Homo sapiens: one gene and its partners. The protein of the gene in region 1 purifies or fractionates together with the protein of each later gene. This does not show direct contact. Each region holds a gene or a part of one and is shown in the gene's direction. Other genes may lie near its edges.

What was found.
Region 2: the proteins of GLI2 (region 1) and ZSCAN18 purify together in Homo sapiens (affinity purification with mass spectrometry; one large-scale study listed by BioGRID and IntAct). This does not show direct contact.
Region 3: the proteins of GLI2 (region 1) and STK36 purify together in Homo sapiens (affinity purification with western blotting, with the first as the bait; one study listed by BioGRID). This does not show direct contact.

What each region holds. Positions count from the first base shown.
Region 1 is NC_000002.12:120,948,856-120,952,507, forward strand, and holds part of GLI2 (zinc finger protein GLI2), read left to right. Parts: intron 1-2,387; coding exon 2,388-2,590; intron 2,591-3,652. UniProt on the Homo sapiens protein: Functions as a transcription regulator in the hedgehog (Hh) pathway. Functions as a transcriptional activator. May also function as transcriptional repressor. Requires STK36 for full transcriptional activator activity.
Region 2 is NC_000019.10:58,083,338-58,085,927, reverse strand, and holds the end of ZSCAN18 (zinc finger and SCAN domain-containing protein 18), read left to right. Parts: intron 1-548; coding exon 549-1,243; 3' UTR 1,244-2,072; downstream 2,073-2,590. UniProt on the Homo sapiens protein: May be involved in transcriptional regulation.
Region 3 is NC_000002.12:218,695,957-218,699,608, forward strand, and holds part of STK36 (serine/threonine-protein kinase 36), read left to right. Parts: intron 1-570; coding exon 571-645; coding exon of another isoform or gene 646-678; exon of another isoform or gene 679-1,041; intron 1,042-1,082; coding exon 1,083-1,257; intron 1,258-1,506; coding exon 1,507-1,654; intron 1,655-1,897; coding exon 1,898-2,045; intron 2,046-2,645; coding exon 2,646-3,392; intron 3,393-3,652.

The sequences.
Region 1 (3,652 bases):
CCTGCAGGCTCTGGGAACCTGCCGTGCCTGGAGTGTCTGGGGAGGACCGAGAAGTCAGGACAGAAGGCACCTTAGCTATTCTCTCAGCCTGTAGACACCCTGCATTTTGCTGAGCCACACTCAGCCTTCCAGAACTTGTATCCTTCAGCCCAGGTCTGCCCCCAGGAGCCATAGAGGCGTGATGTTGTCTCAGAGCCTTCTCTTCACAACCCACCCATCCCGTGGCAGGATGTGAGTGTCATCCTGCTGCAGTCACAGGCTGGAGCCCACAGGACCTGCCCTTGTCCAGGGGTGCATTAGTCTGGTCCCACTTCTCCTCTCCCGGGCACACATAGCAGCCCCCGCCTAGGCTAAAGCTATCTGTTAAGCCCTCCGCATTTCATGCAGTTCCCATGCAGAGGCACCCACCTCTACAGGCAGGCTGTGAGTGAGAACGTCTTGAGGTTGTGACTTGTGACTTATTCCACAGTCTCCCTCCCATTGAGCTCAGTGGCTGGCACACAGACATGTGGCTGTCACTGATTCTGAAGGTACCTCTGAGCACCTGCATGACGCCAGTTCCATGCCAAGTGCTGAGCATGCAGAAGAGCCTCGGACATGCCCTGCTCCCAGGCAGAGCCTGGGAACCTGGCAGATGCACCTGTCAGCTTGAGCCTGGAACAGTGCACCCTTGGGGAGCAGAGAGAAGGGATCCTGAGCCAAGAGAAGGGGCTTCAGGGAGGGTGCCACCTGCTGGGCTGACAGGGATGAGAAGGAGTTTGCCACCACAGTATAGGGTGCAGGAAGGCATTGGAGGCCAAGGATTGGTGTAGGCAAAAAGGCAGAAGCAGGTTCGTGGGATCTACATGAGCAGGGCAGTCACGTCTGCTGAAGCTAGACAACCAAACTGCGGAAGACTCCCTCCAGGCCTGGCACAGCGGCCTCCCAGGGGGGTGTTTGTGAAACCCAGATGTGAGGACATCTGGATGTCACCTGTTTGGGTCCTGGTTTGTACTGTACTGTAAGCCCAGTTTTCATGCACTATTGAGCATGATCAGTAATTATCTCTGGTTTGCTCAGCCAACAGACAAATCATTTCCTCCCTGAAATAACCAGTTCCAGCAGTGGCCTTTCACACGTCCAGCATCAATCCAGTGTGAAGATTGGGAGGGCCTCCCGGGCAATGCTAGGTTAGCCCTCAAAGTGTGGTTCTAACCCTCTAACAGCAGTTCTCCTTTCATGACTGCCTGCCATGTCTCTGGCACAGTTTTGGGGACTTTCATCCTCACGACAACCCTATGAAACAGACACTATTATGATCCCCATTCCACAGATGAGGAAACTGAGGCTCGGAGAGGTTACAGTGTGATGTGGCTGGGATTCTAACCCAGGTTTGTCTGATTCTAACACACTCTCTTTTCTTTGCACAATGTCAAATTATAGACTAAAGAATAAAAATGAAATCTTGGTAAATGTGGTTCCTGGTGACTTAGCTGTGGTTTTGCAGCTGCTTCACCATAAAGTCTGATTCATCTTTAATGAGTGAGTTTTGGAGTAGATTACCTCAAAATACACCTGCAGCTGCATAGAGGCCCCAGGTCAGCAGGCCTGACATAAGGGCCTGAGGTCACATCGAATGGATTCCATGACTCTTGGTGGGCGGACTTGGGGACATGGGGGTGGGCCCTGGCCATGCCAGCCCAAGCCAGCGGCACCAAGCCCAATGCACACCTGACTATTGGGGCATCTGAGAAGGGTGGTTCTGTTAGCGCTAGGAGGAATTCCATGGAAGGAGAACGAGGAGATATTCCAAGATTTTAGTTAGGGCTCATCAATTTCAAAACTTGCCTTGAATCCTGACCCTGCGGCCGAGCTGGTCACACCAGCAACCAACCATCCAACTGAAGCCAGAAACTCTCCACTTGCAGGACATCTCCTGATCCCTCTCTTTTTCACATATCCTGTTAGCAGTATGAGCTCTTTGCGTTTTACCCGTGGTATTCGTATTTTCATATTCGTTTTCATACATGTTTCTAGCATGCAAGCCTGTGCCTAGCCCCGAGGAGGCACTGGGGAAGCCACAGTGCAACTGTGACGTGTGGGCGGCCTGCTGTGCGTGTGCTCCAGCAAGTCCAGTCGCGGGTGCGAGGTCCATTCTCCAGCGTGGAACTGGCCGGCGGGTGCACGCACCAGCGTGGAGCTTTCACTCTGCATTCACTGACTAATGCTTGAGAGTTCAGACTGTAATTCACAGATGACCAGGGGAATGTCGGTGTAGCAAATAATAAGTGCAGGTTGTTCTGGAAAGTCTTTCCAGGAGAGACAAGGACTGTCCATGTTGGTTTTGGGGTCTTGGTGGGGTTCCCTCTGTGTCCTCCTTCTTAGACGGCTGCCCATTGTCTCTGCAGGCCCCCTGCCCTCAGCGGCAGCCCTGTCATCTCTGACATCTCCTTGATCCGGCTTTCCCCGCACCCGGCTGGCCCTGGGGAGTCCCCCTTCAACGCCCCCCACCCGTACGTGAACCCCCACATGGAGCACTACCTCCGTTCTGTGCACAGCAGCCCCACGCTCTCCATGATCTCTGCAGCCAGGGGCCTCAGCCCCGCTGATGGTGAGTAGGGTGTGGGGATGGGGAGGGGCAGCTAGGGCACTGGGGCAGGGCGCAGCCAGCCTCTCTCACGCTAACACTGTCAACTCCTCAGCCTTGGTCCCCTTGAATGGTGACCAGGCTGGCTGGCGTTCCTTCACACTACTTCCAAACAACAAGTTTTTGGGTTTTATGCTCATTAAAGAGCCTTTGGTAAGCACTCTTTTGCATGCAAACCATATATGATCTATTGTAATAATAACAGTAAGGGTCTATCCAGGTAGGTCCTGTGTAGCTGAGAACCACTGGTTGTAACCAACCAAAGCCTGCAGAAGCTGGTGTTAGGAAAGGGGATGTTGTGTTGGAGTGTCTCATGCAGAAGGAAGGCGGAGTGGGCTGGCTGCTGCCTGCGTCTCTGTTGGATCTGCCCCTTGCAGGTTAACGCAGGAGGCCTCCAAGTGGCAGCCCAGGCCCTGGGGCTCCGGGGATGAAGCTGTGGCATTGTGTTCAGATGCCTGAGAGAGAACATTGATTGGCCCGGCTCAGAGATCAGATGGCCACCCCGGTGTGACTAATTTCAGCCAGAAAAGGGCAGGGTCACATGGTACAAATATGTCTTTATATGTATAAAGCAGATCTAAAGTTTTACACTTCTAGTCCCCACCCACCCCACCAACAGACACATGCAAACACATATTAGTAACCCGGACATTTAGGGGCCAGTCCCACCATGCCGTCTCCCTGGGAAGTGCACCCCCATCCATAGCATGGCATGGCCCCGTGCCGCCCCTGAGAGCGCTGTTAGCCACTCATTGTCCCCATCCTTGAAAGCAGCCAAGTGCAACTTCTCAGAATTCACGAAGCTAAGACTTGACCTCTCAGGCTAGAGGACATCTGCAACTTGAACTTCAGAGCCCCATGGGCAGAGGCTCTAGGAAATGGGGTCCCAGCGAGTCTCTTATCACTACCAGCATTCTCCCCGAGAGGAATGCATCCTCTTCCAACTGGTGGGTGTGACCACGAGTTGAAGCGGAGGCCTGGCTCTGAGAATGTGCAGGCTGGGATTGCACGATGAAAAGGAGGCAT
Region 2 (2,590 bases), on another chromosome or scaffold:
ATGACTGGTCCCGGGGGTGGCCGTTCTGCCCCATTGGAGGCTCTGTGCCAGCACACCAACAAGAACACCTAGAGGCGGACTTGGGCTGGAGGGCCCTGGGTGCCTGTCGCCAGGGGGCTTGTCGCTGGGGGGTTTGGCCTTAGCTATTGACCCCACTCTCTTCGCTGGCAGCCGGGCCCCTCCCTCCAGGAGGGTGCGCTCTGAGCAGGCTCTCCTTGCATCGTGCATCTTGTGGCCAAGCTAGTGGCCAGGTGGAGACCTCCAAAGGCGCGGTTTCCAGAACCCGGGCTCAGTGGGGCTGTCCTTCCTGTCCTGTCGGTGGCCTCCGTTGTTGGAGGCCTCCAGGTCCCACATCTGCAGCAGCAGGCGCGGGGCATGCGCTGCAGGGCTGCCTGGGAGGGACAGCGCTGCTTCCAAACAGCCGTGAGCCCCGCGGGGATCCAGAGCCCGGAGCCCTGTGCGCTGTTCCGGCAGCTGAGGCTCGGCTGGGTCCTCCTCTCCCTGGCCCTGGGCGGGGCGCTCACGCTAGGGCTCTGACCTTGTTCCAGAAGGCGGGAGGCGGCAGGAGAGCGCTGGGTGCGCCTGCGAGGAGGCCGCCCCCGCGGGGGTGCTGCCTGAGCTGCCTACGGAGGCGCCCCCTGGGGACGCCCTTGCCGATCCCCCGTCGGGCACCACTGAGGAGGAGGAAGAGCAGCCTGGGAAGGCCCCGGACCCGCAGGACCCCCAGGACGCGGAGTCCGACTCTGCCACCGGATCGCAGAGGCAGTCCGTCATCCAGCAGCCTGCCCCGGACAGGGGCACGGCGAAACTGGGAACCAAGAGGCCGCACCCCGAGGATGGGGACGGGCAGAGCCTCGAGGGCGTCTCTAGCTCCGGCGACAGCGCAGGGCTGGAGGCCGGGCAGGGCCCTGGGGCTGACGAGCCGGGCTTGTCCCGCGGGAAGCCCTATGCCTGCGGCGAGTGCGGGGAGGCCTTCGCGTGGCTCTCGCACCTGATGGAGCACCACAGCAGCCATGGCGGCCGGAAGCGCTACGCCTGTCAGGGCTGCTGGAAGACCTTCCACTTCAGCCTGGCCCTAGCCGAGCACCAGAAGACCCACGAGAAGGAGAAAAGCTACGCGCTGGGGGGCGCCCGGGGCCCCCAACCGTCCACCCGCGAAGCCCAGGCGGGGGCTAGGGCGGGCGGTCCCCCAGAGAGCGTGGAGGGCGAGGCTCCCCCCGCACCCCCAGAGGCGCAGAGGTGAGCCGCTGTGCTGTCCCGTTCCGGAGGGGCCGCTTTGCCGGCCGTGAATCCCAGACGAGGCATTGGGCCTTTCCACGCCCCTGGGTGGCGGCTTCCTGTGGTGTTTGTGGACGTCCTCTGCCTGTGCCCTGAATCCGCTCCTGAGGCTAAGCGCTCCCAACGAGAAGGGTCCACGGGAAGCCCTCACCTCTGTAAACACACCCTGGGCCAGCGCTCGCATCCGAGGGGAGCCGCCGGATGTGGAAGAAGACTCGGCTTTCCTGCAGCCATTTAGTGCCGCCCCATGCTAGGTTATTTGACATTGTGCAGTGTAGAGTTGCCTTAAAGTGCGTGATCTGCCAGTGCTTTCTTCAAGTCACCCTTGCCCCGATTCCTCCTGTTTGCGCTCCCCAGGGTTGCTCAAGTGGAAATTTTGTCAGCTGTTTAGCCTTTTCGTACTTGGCGTGATGTCAACTTCACTTCTAATCTGCAAAAGCAGAAGCTGTTTCCTAGTTTACCTCGCGTGTGTTTACCTATATGGAGTAGCTCGCAGAGATCACAGAAATGCTTGCAGCCTAAGGCAGGGTTTTCAGACCGTGGGTCCCAGCCCATTTAGTAAAATGGGAAATCAATTAGCAAGTGGTCACCAGCATTACACAGCAATGAAGCAGAATAAAGTAGGCCAGAATGCATCATGTAGTAAAGGCAAATACTGTTTTGTGAAACTTTTCACCCATACATCTAAATGTGAGAACTGGTTGCAATGTAAGACATTTCTTGCTGGGAAGTTGTGAGCAAAATAAGTTGAAAACACTAATAAAGATCTGTCTGTCTGAGCAAAGGAGACTAAACTCCTTGGGCTACATAAGGTGATCTTTTCATTGATTGCATTTATTCTCAAGATTACAGTATCATTCCCATTGCCTGCGCATAAACTTAACTGCTCCCTGCGCATAAACTTAACTGCTCCCTGTAGATACAGAAACTGGTGCCTCTTTTTCTGTCACTGTGTTTGAGCAGGCAGTCTGTTGTAATGACCCCCAAATCACAGAGACTTAGTAAGTACTTATTCATGGGCCGGGCGTGGTGGCTCACACCTGTAATCCCAACACTTTGTGAGGCTGAGGCAGGCAGATCATGGAGTTTGAGACCAGCCTGGCCAACATGGTGAAACCCTGTCTCTACTAAAAATACAAAAAATTAGCCAGCTGTGGTGATGCGTGCCTGTAATCCCAGCTACTCAGGAGGCTGAGGCAGGAGAATTGCTTGAACCTGGGAGGCGGAGGTTGCAGTAAGCCAAGATTGTGCCACTGCACCCTAGCCTAGGTGACAGTGCAAGACTCCATCTCAGAAAAAAAAGAAAAAAAGA
Region 3 (3,652 bases), about 98 Mb from region 1:
GGGTTCAAGCGATTCTCCTGCCTTATCCTCCTGAGTAGCTGGGACAACAGGTGCACACCTCCATGCCCAGCTAATTTTTGTATTTTTAGTAGAGACGGGGTTTCACAATGTTGGCCAGGCTGGTCTGGAACTCCTGACTTCCTGATCCCCCCGCCTCAGCCTCCCAAAGTGCTGGGATTACAGGCGTGAGCTACCTCAGTGGCTGAATTCTTTATAATTTATAAAACATTTTCACATGTTATCCCACAACACACTTGAAATATAGACACACCAATGTAATAATACTCATCTGCTTTTTCTAGACTAAGTTAGCCTTCAGAGAGGTTGTATCACTAGTGATAGCACTAACACTCATCCAGAAGTCTAAGTCAGAACTTTGGGAGTCATCAGTGACTGTTCTCTCTTCCCCATTATTCCCCCACCGAAATGGTTCCCCCAGGCCCCATATATTCTACCTTCCGGTTGACTCTCAAATCTGTTCCCTCCATGGCACCATCACTGACCTGCCTTGGTTTAACGGACACCCCATTCCTCTTAGGCACCTGCATTCTTCATGTTTCTCTCTGACAGGTTCGGTTGACTCCACCAGGTAGTTGTGGATTCTATGATGGCCTCCTTATCCTTCTGTTGCAGCTCCTCACTGAGGTACAGATGGATCTTGGGATGGATGGGAAGTAAAGAGAGAGGAACTGGGCATTTTGGGGAGCCTCTGGACCAGAGGAATGAAGAAGCAACCCACAGCCTTCCCTCTCAAGCTACTGTGCCTGTGATAGCCTTGGAACTTCCCCGCCTGCCCTCAGTACTGACCCTTTGAAGGAAACCATTCGCTGCGTCCCCTGGGATCCAGTGGGAGATAAAATGAATTCCCTGGGTTTCAGCAGACATACACATGAGTTGTGAGGTCAGAGGGTTAAGGTTTGATAAGAAAATGAAATAAGACGACAGGGAAATACTAGGTGGGAAAGCGGAAGGAATTATTTCTGGGACTTCCTTTACTTGTAAGTCAGGGACAGGAATGAATAAAAGCATTTGGATTCCTGACTTCTGTCTTTCCCCCCGCCCTCTTTCACTTTTATCTCTAGCAGGGGAAGGCTAGCCTAATCAGGGATATGTCCAGTTCAGAAATGTGGACCGTTTTGTGGCACCGCTTCTCCATGGTCCTGAGGCTCCCCGAGGAGGCATCTGCACAGGAAGGGGAGCTTTCGCTATCCAGTCCACCAAGCCCTGAGCCAGACTGGACACTGATTTCTCCCCAGGGTATCTTTCTATCAGTATCCTTTTTGGGAGTGCATTGATCTCTCTTCAAGAGGAGGCAGCCCAGAACTGGGTTAACCCACAGAGGTTTATTTTTTTTGCTTTTGCCTGGGGACAGGAAGCAGTGTCTGCACTAGAGCTGCTCTAAGATGGGGAAGGGACTGAATAGGTGTAGCCCTGGGAGCTGTGGGGAAGCAGGGGTATCTGGGCGTCTTGCCTGTTCCATTGGGTCTCCATTTTTGGTGTTACCAGGCATGGCAGCCCTGCTGAGCCTGGCCATGGCCACCTTTACCCAGGAGCCCCAGTTATGCCTGAGCTGCCTGTCCCAGCATGGAAGTATCCTCATGTCCATCCTGAAGCATCTGCTTTGCCCCAGCTTCCTGAATCAACTGCGCCAGGCGTGAGTTTGAGCTAGAAGAGAGCCACAGAGTCAGCAACGGGGAGGGAGAAAGAAGAAGGCAGGAAAGAAGTTACTGACAGATTGAGCTATAAAGCAAGAAAGATGAGATCAGGTTTAGGCTGGAAACCTAAGTAGTGGCTGAGACTGTAGAAGGGGAGTTGGGCAAAGGAATTGGAGGAGGGAGGGAGGAATGATAAAGGTTAAGTGAACAAGACCAAGTCTCTTCGACATTCCTCTCCTTAGGCCTCATGGGTCTGAGTTTCTCCCTGTCGTGGTGCTCTCTGTCTGCCAGCTCCTTTGCTTCCCCTTTGCGCTGGACATGGATGCTGACCTCCTTATAGGTGTCTTGGCCGACCTCAGGGACTCAGAAGTTGCAGCCCATCTGCTGCAGGTACTTGGGCAGCTAGCATGAAGGTGGGAGAGGAAGATAGCCAACCTTGTATCCTCTAATTTACTTCCCAGCAGCTCCAGGGCTCTTCTAGGCCCCTGTAAGCATGGAACAGCTGGCTTGACTCAAAAGTTGGCGTGGAGACAGTACTCAGACCTGCGCATGTGGTGGAGGCATGTGGTGGGAGCTGGGTTGGTGCCTCCTCCTCTCCATCAGTCCATCACCTGGTTCTGTTGGTGCTCATTGGGGAGAACATCCTAGTCTAGGCACTGAAGACTCACCTCCTTGGCCAGGAATCATGTTTCTGGCAATTCTTGGCATTGCACAGTGGGTCTTTGTTCTTTTGTTGTTTCTTTTTGTTTTTTCACAGTGGGTCTTTGAAGGCAGAGACTGAGCCCTTGCAAAGTAAGGAATGATCTTGGAAAGAACCTGCTCTCTCAGGCTCCACGTTGTGTCTCATGTGGAGTGCTGTGGGGCAGGACTTCCAGCTCTCTGTGGCATTTCTCACCATAGCTTGGCTTTTCTCTCTCCCAGGTTTTGGGCTTCTTTATAGCTGCATATACTCTCTCTCTCCCTGAATCCTTTTACCTCCTGTTCTCTCAGGTCTGCTGCTACCATCTTCCGTTGATGCAAGTGGAGCTGCCCATCAGCCTTCTCACACGCCTGGCCCTCATGGATCCCACCTCTCTCAACCAGTTTGTGAACACAGTGTCTGCCTCCCCTAGAACCATCGTCTCGTTTCTCTCAGTTGCCCTCCTGAGTGACCAGCCACTGTTGACCTCCGACCTTCTCTCTCTGCTGGCCCATACTGCCAGGGTCCTGTCTCCCAGCCACTTGTCCTTTATCCAAGAGCTTCTGGCTGGCTCTGATGAATCCTATCGGCCCCTGCGCAGCCTCCTGGGCCACCCAGAGAATTCTGTGCGGGCACACACTTATAGGCTCCTGGGACACTTGCTCCAACACAGCATGGCCCTGCGTGGGGCACTGCAGAGCCAGTCTGGACTGCTCAGCCTTCTGCTGCTTGGGCTTGGAGACAAGGATCCTGTTGTGCGGTGCAGTGCCAGCTTTGCTGTGGGCAATGCAGCCTACCAGGCTGGTCCTCTGGGACCTGCCCTGGCAGCTGCAGTGCCCAGTATGACCCAGCTGCTTGGAGATCCTCAGGCTGGTATCCGGCGCAATGTTGCATCAGCTCTGGGCAACTTGGGACCTGAAGGTTTGGGAGAGGAGCTGTTACAGTGCGAAGTACCCCAGCGGCTCCTAGAAATGGCATGTGGAGACCCCCAGCCAAATGTGAAGGAGGCTGCCCTCATTGCCCTCCGGAGCCTGCAACAGGAGCCTGGCATCCATCAGGTATACCCTACAGCACTTATGAACCATGATGATCAGGGCCCCTATAGTTGACAACATTTCTCTGAGATCATCTGTAAGGAATTGGAATCGGGACATGGAGAAACTTATGCCGTGTTTCTCCCAGGGACAGTGTCTTGGAGTGAGTTTTCTAGTTACATCTCCTGCCTTGGAGGAGGGAAGGGAGCTAGAAGAGGGCTCCAATGGGCTGGGAAATGTCTGAGATCTCAAGGACCACAGTTGATCTCTTCTAGAGGCTGTGC